Regions from separate parts of the Homo sapiens genome. Here region 1 is linked to region 2. A link means that fine-mapping ties the variant in region 2 to the expression of a gene that starts in the linked region. Tissue or cell type: tibial artery. Region 2 holds a variant in brackets; the other region holds the start of a gene. All regions are shown on one strand. Distances are between the middles of the regions.

What was found. PIP is the estimated chance that this variant, and not a neighbour inherited with it, causes the effect.
Region 1: it holds the start of SLCO5A1, and the variant in region 2 is fine-mapped to the expression of SLCO5A1 in tibial artery (GTEx, PIP 0.98).

What each region holds. Positions count from the first base shown.
Region 1 is chr8:69,829,308-69,839,654 of GRCh38, reverse strand. SLCO5A1 (solute carrier organic anion transporter family member 5A1) reads left to right here and starts at 4,677. Exons shown (of 10, transcript NM_030958.3): 1 at 4,677-4,801; 2 at 6,486-7,888. The coding sequence starts at 6,982. SLCO5A1-AS1 (SLCO5A1 antisense RNA 1) reads right to left here and starts at 5,543. Exons shown (of 4, transcript NR_186568.1): 1 at 5,462-5,543. RefSeq lists silencers at 4,412-4,521, 6,612-6,701 and enhancers at 4,842-4,921, 6,352-6,421.
Region 2 is chr8:69,929,585-69,939,931 of GRCh38, reverse strand. It overlaps the pseudogene RNA5SP270. Among named protein-coding and RNA genes, the nearest start is that of SLCO5A1, 100 kb to the right of the region's middle. The variant A/TA (reference allele first, on the strand shown) is at 6,200.

The sequences.
Region 1 (10,347 bases), 100 kb after region 2:
CTGGTATATGTAAGCGTTTCCCTGAGTTCTGTGAGCCTGTCCAGCAAATTAATCAAACCCAAAGAGGGGTTGTGGGAATCCCAAATTGAAGCTAGTTGGTCAGATGTTCTGGAGGCCCAGACTTGACTCTGGGTCTAGGGGAGAGAGGAGGCAGTTTTGTGGGACTGAGCCCTCAACCTCTGGGATGTGATGCTATCTTGAGGTAGATAGTGTCAGAACGGAGTTGAATTGGAGGATGCCCAGCTGGTGTCTTCTGCAGAACTGATTGCTTGTTGGTGTAGACTGCCCACCAACATCTGGTCACAGAAGTCTTTTGTGTTGATTGTTGCGGTATGAGAGCAGAGGACAATGCAGTTTGAGTTTCTCTGCATTCAGAAGTGGTTAGGGCTTTGCATTCTAGGTGCACCCAAGAGAAACATGTAGAGATGCTCACAGCCCATGGAGGACTGCCTCTTCTAACCTGCTTCCTTCCCCTTCCCATCCGACCACTTTCTTTTCCAGGCCAAGGTGGCAGTGGTGGTAATTATGAAACATCTTTCAAGGGAACATGATTTTTTTTTTAAGACAACTGTCTCCTCTTCACAGGGAAGTTTCCCTCCATTACTAGCCTTGGAGTATCTGGCTTTATTATTATTATTATTATTGTTGAGATGGAGTTTCACTCTTGTTACCCAGGCTGGAGTGCAATGGTGCGATCTCGGCTCACTGCAACCTCCGCCTCCCCAGTTCAAGTGATTCTCTTGCCTCAGCCTCCCAAGTAGCTGGGGTTACAGGCATGTGCCACCACACCCAGCTAATTTTGTATTTTTAGTAGAGATGGGGTTTTTCCATGTTGGTCAGGCTGGCCTTGAACTCCCGACCGCAGGTGATCCACCCACCTCGGCCTCCCAAAGTGTTGGGATTACAGGCATGAGCCACTGCACCTGGCCTGGCTTAATTATTTTTTGTTGTTGTTGGTTTTTGTTTGTTTGTTTATTTTTTGAGACAGGGTCTTGCTCTGTTGCCCAGGCTGGAGTGCAGTCGCGCAATCACAGCCTACTGCAGCCTCTACCTCCTGGGCTTAAGTGATCCTTTTGCCTCAGCCTCCTGAGTTGCTGAGACCACAGGCATATGCCACCATGCCTGGCTATTTAAAAAAAATTTTTTTTTAGTGGAAATGTGTTCTCAAGGGATCCTCCCATCTCAGCCTCTTAAAGTGCTGGGGTTACAGGTGTGAGCCACAGTACCCAGCTAATCTGGCTTAATTATATTAAGGGAGGTGGCAGTTTCTTTATAGGGAGCCAAGCCTCCAGGTGTTCATGGAACTGTGGTTTCTTGGGGGTGTGGGACTTGCAGTGCTAAGTCTCTTTGGACACAGTTGGTCACTATACTCCTTTAGCACTTGCAGGGCCCTCAAGCCACCAGGGCTGGAGTGATTGCCTGCATTCATTGTACCCCAGGGCCAGATCTGTTCCTTCTCAGGTTTTACCCAACCTGAAATTCACTTCTAAGGAAGGATATACATGCCAAGTTCTATTAAGGGGCTACCTTAAAGATACAATGTGTCTCCTCTTAAACAACCAACACCTAATTCAATTATGTTACTGGCAACTATGTATTATGTTTTGCACCCACAAAATATTCTGAACCAAAAACTCAGTTCTTGTTGTATCTGGGAGACCTCTGAAGTGAACCTTCTTTAAGAAGGAAGGGAAGGGCTGTGGGAAAAGGCTCCCTTCAGCTTTCTTCTGCCCATTCTCCAGGACGGCCAGATTTTAAACCTGTAGACTGCCCTGGAAATTGCAAAGGCTACATACTTGTTATATGAAGATCAGGAAAGAAATCATTTATTTATTTATTTATTTATTTATTTTTAAAAAGAAGTCATTTATGTATAAAGTCGATGGACTTAGAAGAAGCAAACGTAAGTCTGAAAGTTTGAAGAGGGTTTACAGTCATATGCTTCCTCTCCCAAAATGCCAAACAAGGCAGGCATTCTGGTTAAAGTAACTGTAATTATTGAGTGAAATAAGGATAGTAAACACTACCATAGGGGTAGTAGAACCCCGTGATATGAGTCCATTTCTTTGTATTAATCAGACAATTACGGCTAATGAGGTGTGCTCTTCTTTTTCAAAGTCATATTTAACTGGGAAAGATAAAGCAAAAGAAATGCTTCTTGCTGAATGTTTTCTTCTTGTTTCCTATGTGAGTAAAATTGGACCTTTTAAAATTTTGTCTTTTTTAAAGTCATATTTAACTGGGAAAGATAAAGCAAAAGAAATGCTTCTTGCTGAATGTTTTCTTCTTCTTTTGTGAGTAAAATTGGACCTTTTAAAATTTTGTCTTTTTTAAAGTCATATTTAACTGGGAAAGATAAAGCAAAAGAAATGCTTCTTGCTGAATGTTTTCTTCTTCTTATGTGAGTAAAATTGGACCTTTTAAAATTTTGCTGTAAATCATGATCTATTAGTGGCAATAAAAAAATCCATAGGTTCTTAGAGTTGCATCTACTTTACGGTAACTGAGCATGAATAAAGACAGAGTGTTTCAGGGACACGATTGCTTGATTTTCAAGTAGGGAAGTCCTGTGATGTCCCCTGATGTATCACATTGAATTCACTGATGTCTGGAGCTGAGACTGAAATGAGAGAATGGGACACAGAGCTTGGAAGGAGGTAATAGGAGGTAGGTTGATTCTGTGTGGATTTAGAATCAGCTCAGAAGAGTATTTGGGTTCAGGAAGTGCCACGTATCTTTGCTCACTTTATCAGCAGTAGAGGACTAAAATCTGGGCAGGGTGGCAGCGGGAGTCCTATTGCCTGTTTGTAGAAAAGTGACTGTGCCTGATGGCGATCTCAAGAGGAGGAGACAATGGCAGGGAATGAAGAAATGCCTCGGTTGATAGGTCAGTCTTGCAGCTGCCAGAAGATTGATGCTCTCTCAGCATGGACTTCAAATACACACTGATTGTTCTTTACTGTCAACTGGCCTTAATTGTTCTCTAAGGATCGCTGTAGATACGACGGTTGTTGGACTAAAGGGAGATAATCAAAAGAATCAAGGTGCATTGACGAGTCAGGATGTTATTCAATGGCAGGAGAGAGGGTAGAGAGTCAGGGTTAAGAGGTTAAGTAAGAACATAGTCTTTTGGAGCACATTGGTTCATATTGTCTACAGAGCAGCTGTGTGCCTATATAAAGTTACTTAACCTCTCTACACTTATCACATCTGTAAAATGGAGACAATGCTTTCATTGGGCAAGGCCAAGGGCCAGTGGAGGGGCTTCGACCTGGCAGCAATGGCCAGCATGGTCACTGGTACTTGTGAGCAACCTCCTTTCCTCCATTAGAGCACTATCCTGCTCTGTCAATGGTCACAAGTGCCCTCAGATACTCTTTTTTTTTTTTTTTTTCAGTTATCATCCTGTTTGTCTTCCCTGCAGCCTGTACACATCTGACCCTTCCCTTCTTACAGTCGTCTGCTCTTTTGGCTTTTCTGATGCGTCCCACACCTCTCTGACCCTTGCTTCCAGTCTCCTTCCTTTGGCTGTACGCTGTCCTCCTAGATTCTTCACAATTTGGATGATCTTCCCTATTCATTCCATCCTTTCTCATGCCACCTTTGGGCTGATGACTACTGATCAATATTCCTAGTCCAAACCTCCTGTGTGTCCAGTGGCTTATGGGACACGTACACTGGGATGTCCCCCAAACATTTCAAACTCAACACATGTAGATGAGAACAATCTTTCTCCTAAAGCATGTTTCTCCACCTGTGCTTTTATTGGCTGTCAGGCACGTAGTCACCCAACTTGGTGCTAGAAACTTGGGAGTCATCCTACCTCGGCTGGTTTTCTTCTCTTGCAGATTGCATCAGCTGCCCAGTTCCCTCCTCTCCATGCCCCCTGCCAATGCCTCATCACATTTTGCTTTCAGACTGCCTCCCAACTCACTTCTGTGCCCGCAGTGTGGCCTCACATCTGTCTACCTGTCACTGCCAGAGCCAGCTCTCTGGTGAGGAAGTCAGAACGTCATTGCCCCCACATTATTGACAGTACACAACTTAGGAAACCCGTAGTGCCCCTTTCTACTCAGCCACTCTTGCAGTCTGGTCCTCTGCCCCATCCCTGCAATCTTCTAGGAAGCTTATCTACCTATTGACTGGCAGCACCATGCCCCCGTGCCTCTGTTCTTCCTGCTGCGTGGAAATGAAGGCTAATGGATATTGGCTACTCCAGTAGCAGGCTGCATAGATGTACCACGTTGTTTTAAGCCATTTACATGAGTATTTCCCCCACAAGCCAGAGGTTTCCTCCGACCAAGTATCTTGTCTTGTTTATCTTTGGTCCCAGAATCTACTATGGTGAATGAGACATGGTGTGTGCCCAAGGCACGGAATAAACGATCAGAAATGATTTATTTATTCAGAGTGGGCTGTCAGCTTCAGCCGCTGACTTTTCTAGAGACCGGCTCCCTCGGGGCTTCAGCGCTCTTGGGCCCCCGCAGCCACGCAGGTGAAGGGCAGCGGGGTGGCTGGCTGTGGGAGGGCTGGGCTGGGTGGCTGCCCTCGCGCCTGCGCCCTCGGCTGCTCCTCTCCGGGCGCGTCTCTGTGCGCGTGTGTCTGTTTGGAGCGGAGGAGAGGCTTGGGTGACAGGCGAGGGGTGGGGGGAAGAGTTCAGCCTGAGTCACAGTCTCATTCACTGATTTCTCTTCGGCTGGACGGAGGCTGCCTCCTCACGCGGCTCCCAACTATTCCCGTAGCTCAGTGCCCCCCTCCCGCCGCTCTACTCAGCCAGGCAGACAGACTGACAGACTCGCTAGTGAGTAGCGGCGGCTTGAGCGCCCGGGCAGCGCGGCGGGCTGTCGCCGGCGGTCTTGTCTTCCCACGGGCTCTGTGTGTGTGTGTGTGTGTGTGTGTGTGTGTGTGTGTGTGTGTGTAGGATGTGCGTGTATGTGATGTGCGCGCAGGGGGTGTCCCTGGGATTCCACGCCTGCTCCAAGAGCTCCCTGCCGGGATCCGCGTGTCCATCCGAGTCTGCGATGCTGTGAGGGCGCTCGCCTAAGCAGGGGGTTCGGACGCCCCCCGCGAGCGGCGAGAGTTTGCTGGGATTCCCCGGCTCCTCACGCAGCGGCTGGTGGGGTTCCCCGGGAAGGCGCCTGGGTAAGGCAGCGGCGGGGAAGCCCGGGATTGTGAGTGGCTGGCAGGCCGGGAATCTGGGAGCGGGTTTGGCCCAGCACAGCCGAGGGAGATGCCGGAGCGGCCACCCTTGGCCGCCCAGCCTCTCTGCCTTTCTCCCTTGCCCTTCCTCCTTTCTTTTCTCAGCAGCATCACAAAGGCGCGCTGCAAAATGAAACCCAGTGTAGTGAAGCTCGGCTGTCTCCCACCTGGTGCATATTCCGCCCCCCGTCCTTGCCCCAGGCTGGAGGAGTGGAGTGGGGGTCCCCAAGATTAGGGGCGGGGTCTTACCACGGGGGCACACCTGTTTTCGATTCTTGCTGAATTCAAGCTGGGTGCGGGATCGCGAGAGAGGTTCCAGTACGCCGGTGTGTGTGTGTGTGTGTGTGTGTGTGTGTGTGTGTGTGTGTGGCCGCGCACGCGCACACGCTCCCCAGGCCCACGCTAGCGGGGTGCGCTCAGTCAATAGCACACCTCCCCGCCGGCCCGCGTGCGCCCAGCCGGCTCCGTGGGCTCCTCGCGCGCTCTCTGACAGCGTGCCGGGATCTCTTTGTTTGGTTGTGGCTTCCCTAGCTCTCGGCAAAGCAGACGGATTTTCGGTTTCGTTTGATACCGCGCTCTGGGACTTAGTGCGGGCCACAGCCTCGAATGCCCCTGGTATTTGTAATTGAAGAGTTCTTTCGGTCAGGGGGTTATTTTTGGTGTTGGGAATAAAGAGGCAAGCATGTTGACCTTTTTGCTGCTGCCTTCGGCTTTGAATGTGTGTCTCTGGTGGAGCAGACAGATTCAAATCTAGTCGCGCACACGTGCCAACGCACACCAGTGTGCACACACATTTCTACACACGTAGTTTACCCCCACCTTCTTTTTTCCTTTTAGAAAAATTGGGACAGGGAATACATTGTGTGTCTGTGAAAAAGTTTCCTTTGTTCTTTTGGGCATTTTCTATTTTGAGTAATGGAGTAGGAGTACGGAAAGGCTGCAGTTAGTTCACTCGATTAAAAGACACTGCCTCTGAGTCAGAGCTGCCAGGTTGATAATTATTAACATATAAAAGCAAACGCAATGTTTAAGGCAGAAGGGGCGGGACGGGGGCAGGTCCGCGGCAGACAATGAGGGAGAGTCTCCGCCGACCGCCTGCTGCTTATTGTTCCGGGACTGGAGACTGCAGCCGGCTGCTGCCTAGTCCTCCGGGGCTCCGCTCCTGACTAGCTCCTCCGTCCCTCTAGGGACGGTTCGGGGTCACCTAACCCTGGTCCCCGGGGCGCTGGGACGCTAGCCCCAAGCCGCAGCCGCTCTTCGCTGACCGCCCTCTTTCTGCTTTGCAGGTCGGCAGCTTCACTCCCGAGGGTGCCGCGAGCCCAGGCGGCGAACACCCGGTACCCCTGGCGCAGCGAGGTGGGATGCTGTACGGACAGCAGCGCTAAGTGCCCCCCCACCCCCGGCGCAGGGTGCACTCGCTCCTGGCCGCGGGCCCAGCGGCGGCGGCGGCGGCGGCGGCGGAGGGGATGAGCCCGGGACGCGCGAGGCGCCTGCCTCAAGCTACCGCCCGGAGAGGGACGCCGAGTAGGGCTCATCGCAGTACCGCGCGGACCCCTGCCCCCTGTGGCACGCGGCTGCGGAGCCTTGAAGCCGTGTCTGTGATCAGGATGCACTGGGCGCCTCGCAGCTGGTGAGGATGCCCTGCTGCGCGGCCCTGCGCCCCCAGCCCCAGTCCCAGGTGGGCAAGACTGACTGGGCCCGGCTTCGGCCCCTCGTGCCGGTGGATGAAACGTGCCGGAGTGCTTGGGTGCCATCAGCTATCAAATCTGAATTCTAAGCGCCATGGACGAAGGCACTGGACTGCAGCCCGGGGCGGGAGAGCAGCTGGAGGCGCCGGCCACTGCAGAAGCTGTCCAAGAGAGGTGCGAGCCGGAGACCCTCAGGTCTAAGAGTTTACCGGTCCTCAGCAGCGCCTCCTGCCGGCCAAGCCTCAGTCCCACTAGTGGAGACGCCAACCCGGCCTTTGGCTGTGTGGATTCTTCGGGCCACCAGGAGTTGAAGCAAGGCCCGAACCCGTTGGCCCCCAGTCCCTCTGCCCCGTCCACTTCGGCGGGGCTCGGGGACTGTAACCACAGGGTGGACCTCAGCAAAACCTTCTCGGTGTCCTCCGCCTTGGCCATGCTCCAGGAGAGAAGGTGCCTCTACGTGGTCCTCACGGATTCCCGTTGCTTCCTGGTGTGCATGTGCTTTCTGACCTTCATCCAGGCGTTAATGGTCTCTGGGTACCTGAGCAGCGTAATTACCACCATTGAAAGGCGCTACAGTCTGAAGAGTTCCGAGTCGGGGCTGCTGGTCAGCTGCTTTGACATCGGGAACCTGGTGGTGGTGGTGTTCGTCAGCTACTTCGGCGGCCGGGGTCGGCGGCCCCTGTGGCTGGCCGTGGGTGGACTCCTCATCGCCTTCGGGGCAGCCCTCTTCGCCTTACCTCACTTCATCTCGCCCCCCTACCAGATCCAAGAGTTGAACGCCTCGGCCCCCAACGACGGCCTGTGTCAGGGTGGCAACTCCACCGCCACTTTGGAGCCTCCGGCCTGTCCGAAGGACTCGGGAGGAAATAATCACTGGGTCTACGTGGCTTTATTCATTTGCGCGCAGATTCTCATTGGAATGGGCTCCACACCTATTTATACCCTGGGACCAACCTACTTAGATGACAATGTCAAGAAAGAAAACTCCTCCTTGTACCTAGGTAAGACTTTCCTGTTCTCTCAGATATGTTTCACTCACACTGAAACTTACTTTCCTTACAAAAATCAAAAGGAAACATGTTCTTTCACATTTTCATGTATATTATAGATTAAAGTTCACTTTATTTTACGTTTTAGCCTTGCTGTAGTGTGTTTTCAGTTTGGGAGAGAATCAATTAGTTGAGAGTTCTTGAAACTAATTTTCAGACTCATACTTCATGTTTGTCTTTTCCCAAGTAACATAAACTTTAAACTGTGGGGTGATGCTTCTCTCTGTTGCTACCTACCTATGGAAAAGCTCCAATTTGTCAAGTTTATATTCTAATACACTTGTTGAGGAAGGAATAGCAGTACCTCATGTGTAAAGTTTTGATGATTTTCTGCTTCTATCTGCTGCTGCTTCTGATTTCTGTCCAGAGCAGCAGGGATGGTGGCGTGGCCAGACTACATACATCATGCTTTATTGCCTTCATACCTGTGTTTCTTTTCTTTTTTTTTTTTTTCTTTTTAAGATGGAGTCTTGCTCTGTCACCCAGGCTGGAGTGCAATGGCATGATCTCAGCTCACTGCAACCTCCGCCTCCTGGGTTCAAGTGATTCTTCTGCCTCAGCCCCCGAGTAGCTGGGATCACAGGTACCCATCATGCCTGGCTAATTTTTGTAGAGATGGGGTTTCACCATGTTTGTCAGGCTGGTCTTGAACTCTTGACCTCAGGTGATCCACCCTCCTTGGTCTCCCAAAGTGCTGGGATTCATACCTGTTTTTCTTATACGTCACCTGCACCACTATCTAAAAACAACAACAAAAATTTGAATAATGTCAAATGACTGGCTTACCTTTATGAAGAAGCAACACCACAGGTTATAAGGTTTATCCAAAGCTATTTTTATTGCTGTCAAAAACCCTCAATTGTATGAACTTGGGAGAAGAATCCATTCCTATTTTTCTGAAAAGCCGTGGCTGTGGGATTTGGTGTGTTGACTTGCATAAGTCAGCATCAGTGGACAGGGGTGCTTGAGTTAAGTACAGGGGGCTCATCTGAGGCCAGGCAGCAGTTGCAGAGGGTATGAAAATTTACATCCTAGAAATTTGAGGTTGTTAGCACCTCCCTGTAGTAGCTGGTTCTTAAAAACTGAACTTCTAAGGGATGGATTTGAACCCATAAGAAGGATCAATGGCTGTCATACCAGATGAGATTTTTGTTTTTCTATTTCTGTACTGGAGTGCAACCTAAACAAGCTAAAGGATTTTACTTTACTGAAAAAACTGAAATGGAAGCTGGGTGTGGTGGTGTGTGCCTGTAGTCCCAGCTACTCGGGAGGCTGAGGCAGGAGGATTGCTTGAACCCAGGGACTTGAGACCAGCCTGGGAAACATAGTGAGACCCCATCTCTTAAAAAAATTAAAATGATAAATAAGCAAATACTAGCTATATTTAGCAATTTATTAGCAATGTGCTGATAGGATTCTTGATTTGGGAATAGTAAGATTTTCAAAGGACGGTGTAAATGATATCCAATATAAGAGGGCTATGCTTTGTCCTCAGTATGTTTACTGTCCCCAAAAGCTGTTATAGAGGGGTGTTTGAGTCCTCAGTAATCCCCACTAACTGGTTCAATGGGTCAGAAAAAGAGTTTTATAACTTATTTTTATCACTACATGCAAGAGAAAGAAATTTCCTTTCTGGGTAGAGAAGAATAGCTTGCTTACCATCTTGCCTCTCTGTTTTCTAACATTTATTAAGACAAAATTTTAAACATACAGAAAAGTTGAAACAATAGTATAATAAGCACCAGTATACCCACGACACAGACCCAATGATTGTTTATTTTGTCATGCTTGCTTTATCAACCTGTGTGTGAGTGTATATATGTATAGAAATATATTTTGGGAGATGGGAGGCTAAGCCTTCTAAAAGTAATTGCAGACACTGCCAGAGCATCTTCTAAAAATGAGGGTATTCTTTTACATAACTGAAGGAACATCAACATCCTAAGGAAGTTCATAATCATTCCCTAATATCATTAAATATTCAGGCCATATTCAAATTTCCTCAATTGTCCTCTGAAAGTCTTTTATACTGATTGATTGATTGAGACAGGGTCTTTCTTTCACCCAGGCTGGAGTGCAGTGGCACAATCTCAGCTCACTGCAACTTCTGCCTCCCAGATTCAAGCAATCCTCCCACCTCAGCCTCTCAAGTAGCTGGGACTAGAGACCTGTGCCACCGTGCCCAGCTAATTTTTTGTGGAGATAGAGTTTCATCATGTTTCCCAGGCTAATAATAATTTTTTAAATGAGGAACTAATCAAGATTCATTCATGCATTGCATTTGGCTGTTAGCCACTTTAGCCTTCTATAATCCAGAACTGTGCCTCAACTTTTTTCTTTTTCCATGGCATAGACTTTTTGAAGGGGCAAGGCTAATGTTCCACATTCTAGATGTATCTGATCATTTCCTC
Region 2 (10,347 bases):
TTAAAATTTCATGGTGAGGCATGATTAGGAAAAAATGTCTGCTGGTATAGAACGGTGCACTGATATGCTGGGGCAGCTCTTGAGGTGTGTTAGAGGCCAGGCGGTGATGATGAAGATGATCAGGGTGATGCCATGCCTTTGTTGAGGGTGTATTTATTGTATGCTAGGCCTGTGTAAACACCACATGTGCATGATGTCATTTCATATTCAAAAGACCAAGTACGGAAAGTGAGATTTGCAGAAGCTGGGCAAGTTGTCCAGGGGAGGAGGTAATGTTTAGTGTTTGAGAATTCAGGCTGAGGTATGAGACCAGGCCTCCAACGATAGCATTTACTAGTCATTGGACCTCTGTTAGGCCTCACTTCCTCAATTATAAGTTGGAAATATTAATAGTAGCTTCTAAAGGGTTACTGGGAGAACTATATGACAAAATGCATATAAAGTGCATAGTAAAATGCTGAATAAAGGTTAGTTATTATAATTATTATATTAAATATAATAATATATTTAATACATATACTATTTTAAATACAATGACTATATATCATATCTATAATATAAATGTAAATATTATAATACATTCTATTTATAACATAAATATAACAATTATAATATTTTGCAATATATAATATAATAAAATTGTTATTATTATTATTAAAGTCTGCACCCTTCACCACTTCCTTTTTTGTTTCAGCTAGAGTGCTACACTTGGTTTCTTTTCTTTTCTTTTTTTTTTTTTTTTTGAGACAAAGTCTCGCTCTGTCGCCCAGGCTGGAGTGCAGTGGTGCGATCTCGGCTCATTGTAGGCTCCGCCTCCCGGGTTCATGCCATTCTCCTGCCTCAGCCTCCTGAGTAGCTGGGACTGCAGGTGTGTGCCACCACACCGGCTAATTTTTGTATTTTTAGTAGAGATGGGGTTTCACCATGTTGGTCAGGCTGGTCTCGAACTCCTGACCTTGTGATCTGCCCACCTCAGCTACCCAAAGTCCTGGGATTACAAGTGTGAGCCACAATGCCCGGCCCCTAGAGTTGGTTTCAATGTGTGTACTTTTTTTTGCTTGTCTCCACTTCTTTTGTGTTTGATTTCTTCTTCTATATATATATTTTAAATATAGAGACAGGGTCTCACTATGTTGCCTAGGCTGGTCTTGAACTCCTAGACCCAAGCAATCCTCCTGTCTCAGCCTCCCAAAGTGCTGGGATTACAGGCGTGAGCCACTGCACCTGGCCTCTTTTCCTATCCTCTTTTTTTTTTTTTTTGAGAGGAGGTCTTGCTGTGTTGGCCGGGCTGGAGTACAGTGGCATGGTCTTAGCTCACTGCAGCCTCTGCCACTCGAGTTCAAGTGATTCTCCTGCCTCAGTCTCACGAGTAGGTGGGATTACAGGTGGCTGCCACCACGCCCAGCTAATTTTTTGTATTTTTAGTATAGAGGGGGTTTCACCATGTTGGCAAGACTGGTCTTGAACTCCTGACCTCAGGTGATCCACCCGCCTCGGCCTCCCAAAGCGCTGGGATTGCAGGCGTGAGCCATTGTGCCCAGCCAACTTCTATTCTTGGTAAACATCAATAAATACGTCTTTAGGGATAATAAACTGACATTTTAGGGCATAGCCAAGCGCACATAAAATAATATTCAATTTCACAGATGCTATTTTATCTTTCAAATATATTTGATATTTGAAATGCATCTTCAATAAAAGACAGATGACCAACTCAAACATTTTTTCTACATATATGAAAGGATTGGTATAATTAATAATGAAATTGCTTTTAAAAATCACTAAGAGATGATAACTCTTCCAACAGAAATGGGCAAAGGACAAGATGAGGCAATTCATGCTAAAAAAGGAACAAAAATGGCTAATAAACAGGTAAGCAGTGTTTACTCTGGTAACAGTGAATTGTCTTTCTTTTTTTTTTTGGAGACTGGGTCTATCTTTTTTTTTTTGAGATGGAGTCAGGCTGTCACCCAGGCTGGAGTGAGGGTCTCACCATCTTGCCCAGGCTGGTTGTAAACTCCTGGGCCCAAGCCATCCTGCTGCCTTGGCCTCTCAAAGTGTTGGGATTATAGGTGTGAGCCACTGTGTCCAGCTGAATTGTCATTTTTGTTCATGAAATTGGTGAAATTTATTTTTTATTTTATTTATTTATTTTTTTTGAGACAGAGTCTTGCTCTGTTGCTGAGGCTGGAGTGCAGTGGCGCTATCTCGGCTCACTGCAACCTCCACCTCCTGGGTTCAAGCAGTTCTCCTGCCTCAGCCTCCCAAGTAGCTGGGATTACAGGCATGCACCACCCACACCCAGCTAATTATTTTGTATATTTAGTAGAGATGGGGTTTCACAGTGTTGGCCAGGCTGGTTTCAAATTCCTGACCTAAAATGATCCGCCCTCCTGGGCCTCTCAAAGTGCTGGGATTACAGGCATGAGCCACCGTGCCTGGCCAAAATTTAAAATGATCATTATATCTCTTGCTAGTGAGAATGTGAAAACATAAGCAATCATGCACTATTGTTGGCAGCATAAAATAATTTAACCTGTTAATAAAAAGCAGAGCTGTTTTTGGAGGAAAGTTTATATGTATCAAAAGCCTTACAAATTATGCAAGACTTTTGATCAGGAATTCCATTTCTAGGAGTTTATCTTAAGGAAAAAATATTTTCTTTATATTTTCATCTGAATGCAAAGATGCATATGTAAGGATTATTATTGCAGTTGTCTTTATAATAATAAACAATTAGAAACAAGTTAAATACAGGCCGGGTGCTGTGGCTCATGCCTGTAATCCTAGCACTTTGGGAGGCTGAGGCAGGTGGATCACTTGAACTCAGGAGTTCGAAACCGGCCTGAGCAAACATGGTAAATCCCCTTCTCTACTAAAAACACAAAAATCAGTTGGGTGTGGTGATGTGCGTCTGTAATCTCAGCTACTCATGAGGCTGAGGCACAAGGGTTGCTTGAAACCAGGAGGTAGAGGCTGCAGTGAACTGAGCTCTTGCCACTGCACTCCATCCTGGATGACAGAGTGAGACCCTGTCTCAAAAAAAAAAAAAAAAAAGAAAGAAAGAAACAGGTAAATTCTTAGTAATAGCTATTTCAGTTATTATTGTCAAAGACACTATTGTTCAATAAAATGGAAAGATTTTTCTTTTCTTTTTTTTTGAGAAAGGGTCACACTCTGTCTCCCAGTCTGGAGTGCAGTGGCACAATCATGGCTCACTGCAGCCTGGATCTCCCAGGCTCAAGGGATCCTCCTGCTTCGGCCTCCCGAGTAACTGGAACTACAGGCATGTGCCACTAGCCCACCTAATTTTCTTATTTTTGGTAGAGATGGGGTTTCACCATGTTGCCCAGGCTGGTCTGGAACTCCTGGGCTCTATTGATTCGTCTGCCTTAGCCTCCCAAAGTGCTGGGATTACGGGCGTGAACCATGGCACCTGGCTGATTTTTCAATTAATGTTGTCAAGGTAAAAAATCAGAGCATAGAATGGTACCTGTTCTATGATACTGTGCTTGCTTAAGTAGAAAAATGTGTCCATATGGCCATAGAAAAATATTGGAAGCACATAGCTCAAACTGTTAAAAGCAATTGCCTTTGCATATAGAATTACAGGCGATTATGTTCTTTTTTGAAGTTTCTGCAACAAGCAGGTTTTATGTTCTAGTTATTATTGCTGCATTATAAACCATTGTAAACTTAGTGACATAAAAGAACAATTATTTTATTATGTCAACAAGTTCTGGAATCAAGAATTTGGAAGGTCAGAGTGGGGATGGCTTGTTTCTGCTTCATCCTGTCTCAGATCTTAGCTGGGAAGTGACTAAACAGCTGGAGGCTGGAATAATCAGAAGGCTAATTTGCTCACCTGCCTGACACCTGGGCTAGGAGGACATTAAAGGCTGGTCTGATGCCAGGCGCAGCAGCTCACGCATGTAATCCCAGCACTTTGGGAAGCTGAGGCGGGTGGATCACTGGAGGTCGGGAGTTCGAGAGCAGCCTGATCAATATGGTGAAACCTGGTCTCTACTAAAAAAGATACAAAATTAGCCTGGATGCAGTGGCTCATGCCTGTAATCCCAGCACTTTGGGAGGTCGAGGCGGGCAGATCATGAAGTCAGGAGTTCGAGACCAGCCTGGCCAACATGGTGAAACCCTGTTTCTACTAAAAATACAAAAATTAGATGGGCGTGGTGGCGGGCGCCTGTAATCCTAACTACTCAGGAGGCTGAGGCAGGAGAATGGCTTGAATCCGGGAGGCAGAGGTTGCAGTGATCTGAGATTGTGCTACTGTACTTCAGCCTGGGTGACAGAGCAAGACTCCATGTCAAAAAAAAAAAAAAAAATTACAAAATTAGCTGGGCGTGGTGGTGCATGCCTGTAATCCCAGCTACTTGGGAGGGTGAGGCAGGAGAATTGCTTGAACCCGGGAGGCAGAAGTTGTAGTGAGCTGAGATCGCACCCTTGCACTCCAGCCAGGGAGGACAACAAGAGTGAAACTCTGTCTCAAAAAAACAAAACACAACAAAAAGATATATAGGATCTCTGACATCGCCTGTAATCCCAGTTCTTTGGGAGGCCGAGGTGGACGAATCGCCTGAGCTTAGGAGTTCAAGACCACCCTGGGCAACATGGTGAAACCCCTTCTCTACTAAAATCCAAAATCAGGCAGGCATGGTGGCAGATGCCTGTAGTCCCAGCTACTCAGAAGGCTGACGCATAAGAACTGCTTGAGCCTGAGAGGTGGAGGTTGCAGTGAGTTGAGATTGTGCCACGGCACTCCAGCCTGGGGAACAGAGCAAGACTTCATCTCAAAAAAAAAAAAAAAAAGACTGGTCTGCCTTCTGAAGCCCCTACCTGTGGCTTTTCCATGTAGCCTGGCTTCCTACCACCAGCATGCTGGCCTCGGTGTAGTTGGACTCTCATGACAGCTCAATAGAAGTTGAATTTCAGCAAGTCACAAGCCAGTCCATACTTCAAGTCGCAAACCTATCCATATTCAAGACATCCATATTCAGTTTGAACTTCTACAAGTCTTAAACCTGTCCATATTTATGAGGAAAGGGACACAGATACCACCTCTTGGTCACTTTGTGGAAAAGTGGGATGGGAGACATAGTTGCAGCCATCTTTGGAAATACATATATATTACTTTTGTATTTGGAAAAAAATCCATAAATATCATTGCAGTTAAAAAAAAAGTCTATAAAATACCTAGGAGCCTAATTATCTGAGGTATTCATTGCAGAATCATTTTGCATAATTGAGTTGAAAAGAACTTTCCTAGGTTTTGGAAGGAAAGACATCTGTGTGTTGCTCCTTGTGTCCTGGGTGAAGGTGTTACCTTTGAGATAATCCTGTGTGTGGGTGCCAGGGTAGATGTGGGGAAGGATGGGGGCAGGATTGCCAGACACAACACAGGACATCCCGTTACATTTTTTTTTTTTTTTGAGATGGAGTCTTGCTGTGTCTCCCAGGCTGGAGAGCAGTGGCACTGTCTCGGCTCACTGCAACCTCCGTCACCCTGGTTCAAGCTATTCTCCTGCCTCAGCCTCCCCAGTAGCTGGGATTACAGGTGTGCACTACCACGCCCAGCTAATTTTTGTATTTTAAGTAGAGACACGGTTTCACCATGTTGGCCAGGCTGGTCTCGAACTCCTGACCTCAGGTGATCCACCCGCCTCGGACTCCCAAAGTGCTGGGATTACAGGCATAACCCATCCCATTAAATCTGAATTTTAGATAAGTTACAAATGTTTTGTGTAAGTGTGTCCCATGTCCCAAATATTGCATGTGCCATACTTATACTAAACAAATTTTCTTTGCTTATCTGAATTTCAAATTTAACTGGTTATCTCATATTATTGTTTTTGCTAAATCTGGCAGTCATAATTGGGGGCAGTTCTGGAGATAAGCCCGAATGGGCCATTGCCACCTTCTTATAACTCTCCCACTGCCCGGCAGTGACGAGAAGAGCTCTGGCAGTGGTAGGGAGATTCTATTTTCAGCGTGGGCATCAACACAGTCTGAGAATAGAACAGGGCAAGGGATGGGTGAAGGAAAGAATGTTTTCCAGTATGTGAAGGGGGATCTGCCAGTAGGGCTGGAAACCTGGACTTGATTCCTGGACTAGTTGAAAACTCACTTTGACCTTGGACAAGTCACTAAATCCCTCTATGGCCAAGTTTCTTGTATAAATCCT[A/TA]CTAGTCCAATAGAGGGTTCTTGGGAAGATGAATATGAAATGAGTAAAGCTGCTGTGAAAGCCTTAAAAAGGAGCCCTAGGAAGGAAAATTCAAAGTATTGGTGCTAGTTCCCTCATTCTGAGCTGGCCAACACAGGACACCTGAAGGGCTTTCTCTACAAACTTTCTCTGGATGAGCTCACATCATTGTTTTTTATTTTTCAAAGTATTTTATTTTATCTTTTTTACAGATAGGTCTGTCTTCATCACCCAGGCTGCAGTACAGTGGTGAGATCATAGCTCAGTGCAATCTCAAACTCCTGGGCTCCAGCAGTCCTCCCACCTCAGCCTCCCAAGTAGCTGGGACCACAGGAATGAGCCACCACACCCTGCTAATTTTTAAATTAATTTTTTTGTTTGTTTGTAGAGACAGGGTCTCACTGTATTGCCCAGGCTGGTGTCTAACTCCTGACTCCTGGTCTCAAGTGATCCTCCCACCTCAGCCTCCCAAAGTGCTGTGATTACAGGAGTGAGCCACCACGCTTGGCTAACATTGTTTTTAAACAAAATATCAAGCCAAAGTGTTGTTGCTTTTTAAAATCTATCCCCTGGCCCACTTTGGGCTACATGAACTAGGACAACACCAGACGTTTCTGTGAATTAAAGAGGTAAATGTGCTGTGTCATTAAGTACTACTTTTTCTTCGTCTTCACTTATCTGCTATGACTAGTCTGCTGTGAAGTTCACACTAGTTAGATGCATAATGTGCTCTAAAAAGCTGTGTTCTTTTCCTTCTCTCTCTGCTAAGATGCAATTCCAGTAGCTAAAGTAAGGCTAGTGAATTTATGCCTATTTCCAAATAGAGATCTGGCCAATGACAAAGGGTTTTGTTTTTTTTTTTAATTTTTTATTTATTGGTTACTAGGTAGAAAAGGCTCCTGCATGGCTACAGTCCGACATAGTTCTGCACAGCAGGAGGGAGGCAGGCAGCCTGCTCCACTAACAAGAGGAAGTCATTTTTACATAATTTTCACAAAGATAGAAGGGTTTCCATTTTCTGGGGGGGGCGATTACAGGCACCTGCCACCACGCCCGTCTAATTTTGTATTTTTAGTAGAGACAGGGTTTCACCATGTTGGTCAGGCTGGTTTCAAACTCCTGACCTCAGGTGAACCACCTGCCTCGGCCTCCCAAAGTGTTGGGATTACAGACATGAACCACTGCGCCCAGCTAAAACCTCTATTAACTGGGAACCAGTTGTTTGGAATCTTCAAATTCGCCCCACTTCCAAGTCTGCATTTTAGCATTTAGTATATTTTTTATCAAATACTCAAATATTTGCTGAGTATTGATTTCGTAAAGCAAGCCACTCTTAAGAAAGTCACATTGTAAGTTTATTAAAAAGGAATAAATAAAAACAATCTTAAGTATCTCCTGAGGTGGCTATACATTCAGCTCTGTTCCTTATTTTTGTATTTTTTATTTTGAGTGTAGCATTGTAAACATACAATGCATAGTGAGACTTTGGGTCCAGCGCTATGGCTAAAGCCTGGCAAAATCCCCAGGATTAAGTACCCATGTATTTTGACTATATGGGTACTTAATCAGTCAAGGGGAAATGCTTTTGTTAAAAACAAGGTTTTTCCCTACAATTAAATAAATAAAAATGTAAAAAAATTCAGGATCTGCCGGGTGCAGTGGCTCACACCTGTTATCCCAGCACTTTGGGAGGCTGAGGCGGGCAGATCATGAGTTCAGGAGTTCGAGACCAGCCTGGCCAATATGGTGAAACCCTGTTTCTACTAAAAATCCAAAAAGTTAGTCAGGCGTTGTGATGGGTGCCTGTAGTCCCAGCTACTCGGGAGGCTGAGGCAGGAGAATTGCTTGAACCCGGGGGGTGGAGGTTGCAGTGAGCCAAGATCACGCCAATGCACTCTAGCGAAACTGTGTCTCCAAAAAAAAAAAAAAAAAAAAAAAAAAATGGGATCCAGGACATAGGCTCATTTCACAGAAATTTAAACAATTTAAACAATTGCATGAATAACATCTTCTTCATAATCATAGTTTTACCATATGCTAGGTAATACTAATATTAACTCACTCCTATTTCCATGACAACTATGATCCAGTAAAACACTCGCAAAAGTCATGTCTCATTGGAAATATGTATTGGATATTTGAAGGTTATTTGACGATGAGCTAGACCCGGCTTAGACTGTACCTAGAGTGCATAAATCCTGTTTGCACATTAGATTTCTATGGAGGTGGGACCTGGTTCACCTTATTCTCCAGGCACTGACAGATAATTGAATCTCACTAAATATTTGATGAACAAAGTAAATAAACTGAAGAATAGTATTTCTTTTTTTTCTTTTTTTTTGAGACAGAGTCTCGCTGTGTCACCCAGGCTGGAGTGCAGTGGCACAATCTCGGCTCACTACAAGCTCTGCCTCCCGGGGTTCATGCCATTCTCCTGCCTCAGCCTCCAGAGTAGCTGGGACTACAGGCTCCCGCCACCACGCCCGGCTAATTTTTTTTTGTGTGTGTGTTTTTAGTAGGGACTGGGTTTCACTGTGTTAGCCAGGATGGTCTCGATCTCCTGACCTTGTGATCCGCCTGCCTCGGCCTCCCAAAGTGCTGGGATTACAGGTGTGAGCCACCGCACTCAGCCCTAAGGGTAGTATTTCTTTCTTTCTTTTTTTTTTGTTTTTTTTCGCTCTTGTTGCCCAGGCTGGAGTGCAATGGAGTGATCCCAGCTCACTACAACCTCCGCCTCCCAGTTTCAAGCAATTCTCCTGCCTCAGCCTCCTGAGTAGCTGGGATTACAGGCAGGAGCCACCACGCCCAGCTAATTTTGTATTTTTAGTAGAGATGGGGTTTCTCCATGTTGGTCAGGCTGGTCTCGAACTCCCAGCCTTAGGTGATCCACCCACCTCGGCCTCCCAAAGTGCTGGGATTACAGGCGTGAGCCACTGCGCCCGGCCAAGAGTAGTATTTCTTAAACTTGGGTCTTATAACTAAGGCTTAGAGAGGTTAAGTAAATTCCTCAGGGTCACACAGTAAGTGATGGAATGGGGATTCCAAACCGAGGACCCCAGGTCCCATGGCCTTAACTGTTACTGTCAATTGCCTGTTATGGTTAATTGACTCCTTAAATTATACATTCATACATACATACATACATACATACATACATACATATGTGTGTGTGTGTGTATGCATACAGTCATGTGTTGCTTAATGATGAGGACATGTTCTAAGAAATGAGTTATTAGGCAATTTTGTCATTGTGTGAACATCACAGGGTACACTTACAAGCCTAGATGGTATAGACTACTACACACCTGGGCTCCGTGATATAGTTACATACCTGTACAGTATGTTACTGTACTGAATACTGTAGGCAACTGTGATGCAATGGTATTTGTGTATCCAAACTAGAAAAGGTGCGGTAAAAATACAGTATAAAAGACAAAAAATGGTACACCTGTATAGGGGGCACTTACCGTGAATGGAACTCACAGGACTGGAAGTTGTTCTGGGTGAGTTGAGTGACTTTATATATTATAATAAAGCATTTAATAATAACAACACATTATTACTATTATTACTACCAATACATTATTACTATTATTAATAACAAGAGATTATTACTATTAATAATAATAATTTTTTATTACTATTATTAATATAAAATTTAATTTATAAAGCAGCACTCTTCTTTCCTTTAAAGACTCCAGCACTCAGTAGTCCTAGGATTCTCCTATCCAAGTACTAACCAGGCCTGACCTGGCTTAGTTTCTGAGATCAGAAGAGACTGGCTACAGTCAAGGTGGTATGGACATAGGCAAATACTCTTCTTTCTTCAATAATAAATTAACCTTAGCTTACTGTAACTTTACTTTTTTTTTTTTTTTTTCTGAGACGGGATCTGGCTCTGTTGCCCAGGCTGGAGTGCAGTGGCTCAATCTTGGCTCACTGCAACCTCTGCCTCCTGGGTTCAGGTGATCCTCCTGCTGAGGCAGGAGGATCCCTGCCTCAGGAGGCTCCTGAGTAGCTGGGATTACAGCCAGCACCATGCCTGGCTAATTTTTGTATTTTTTGTAGAGTTGGGGTTTCACCATGTTGCCCAAGCTGGTCTCGAACTCTTGGGTTCAAGCAATCCACAC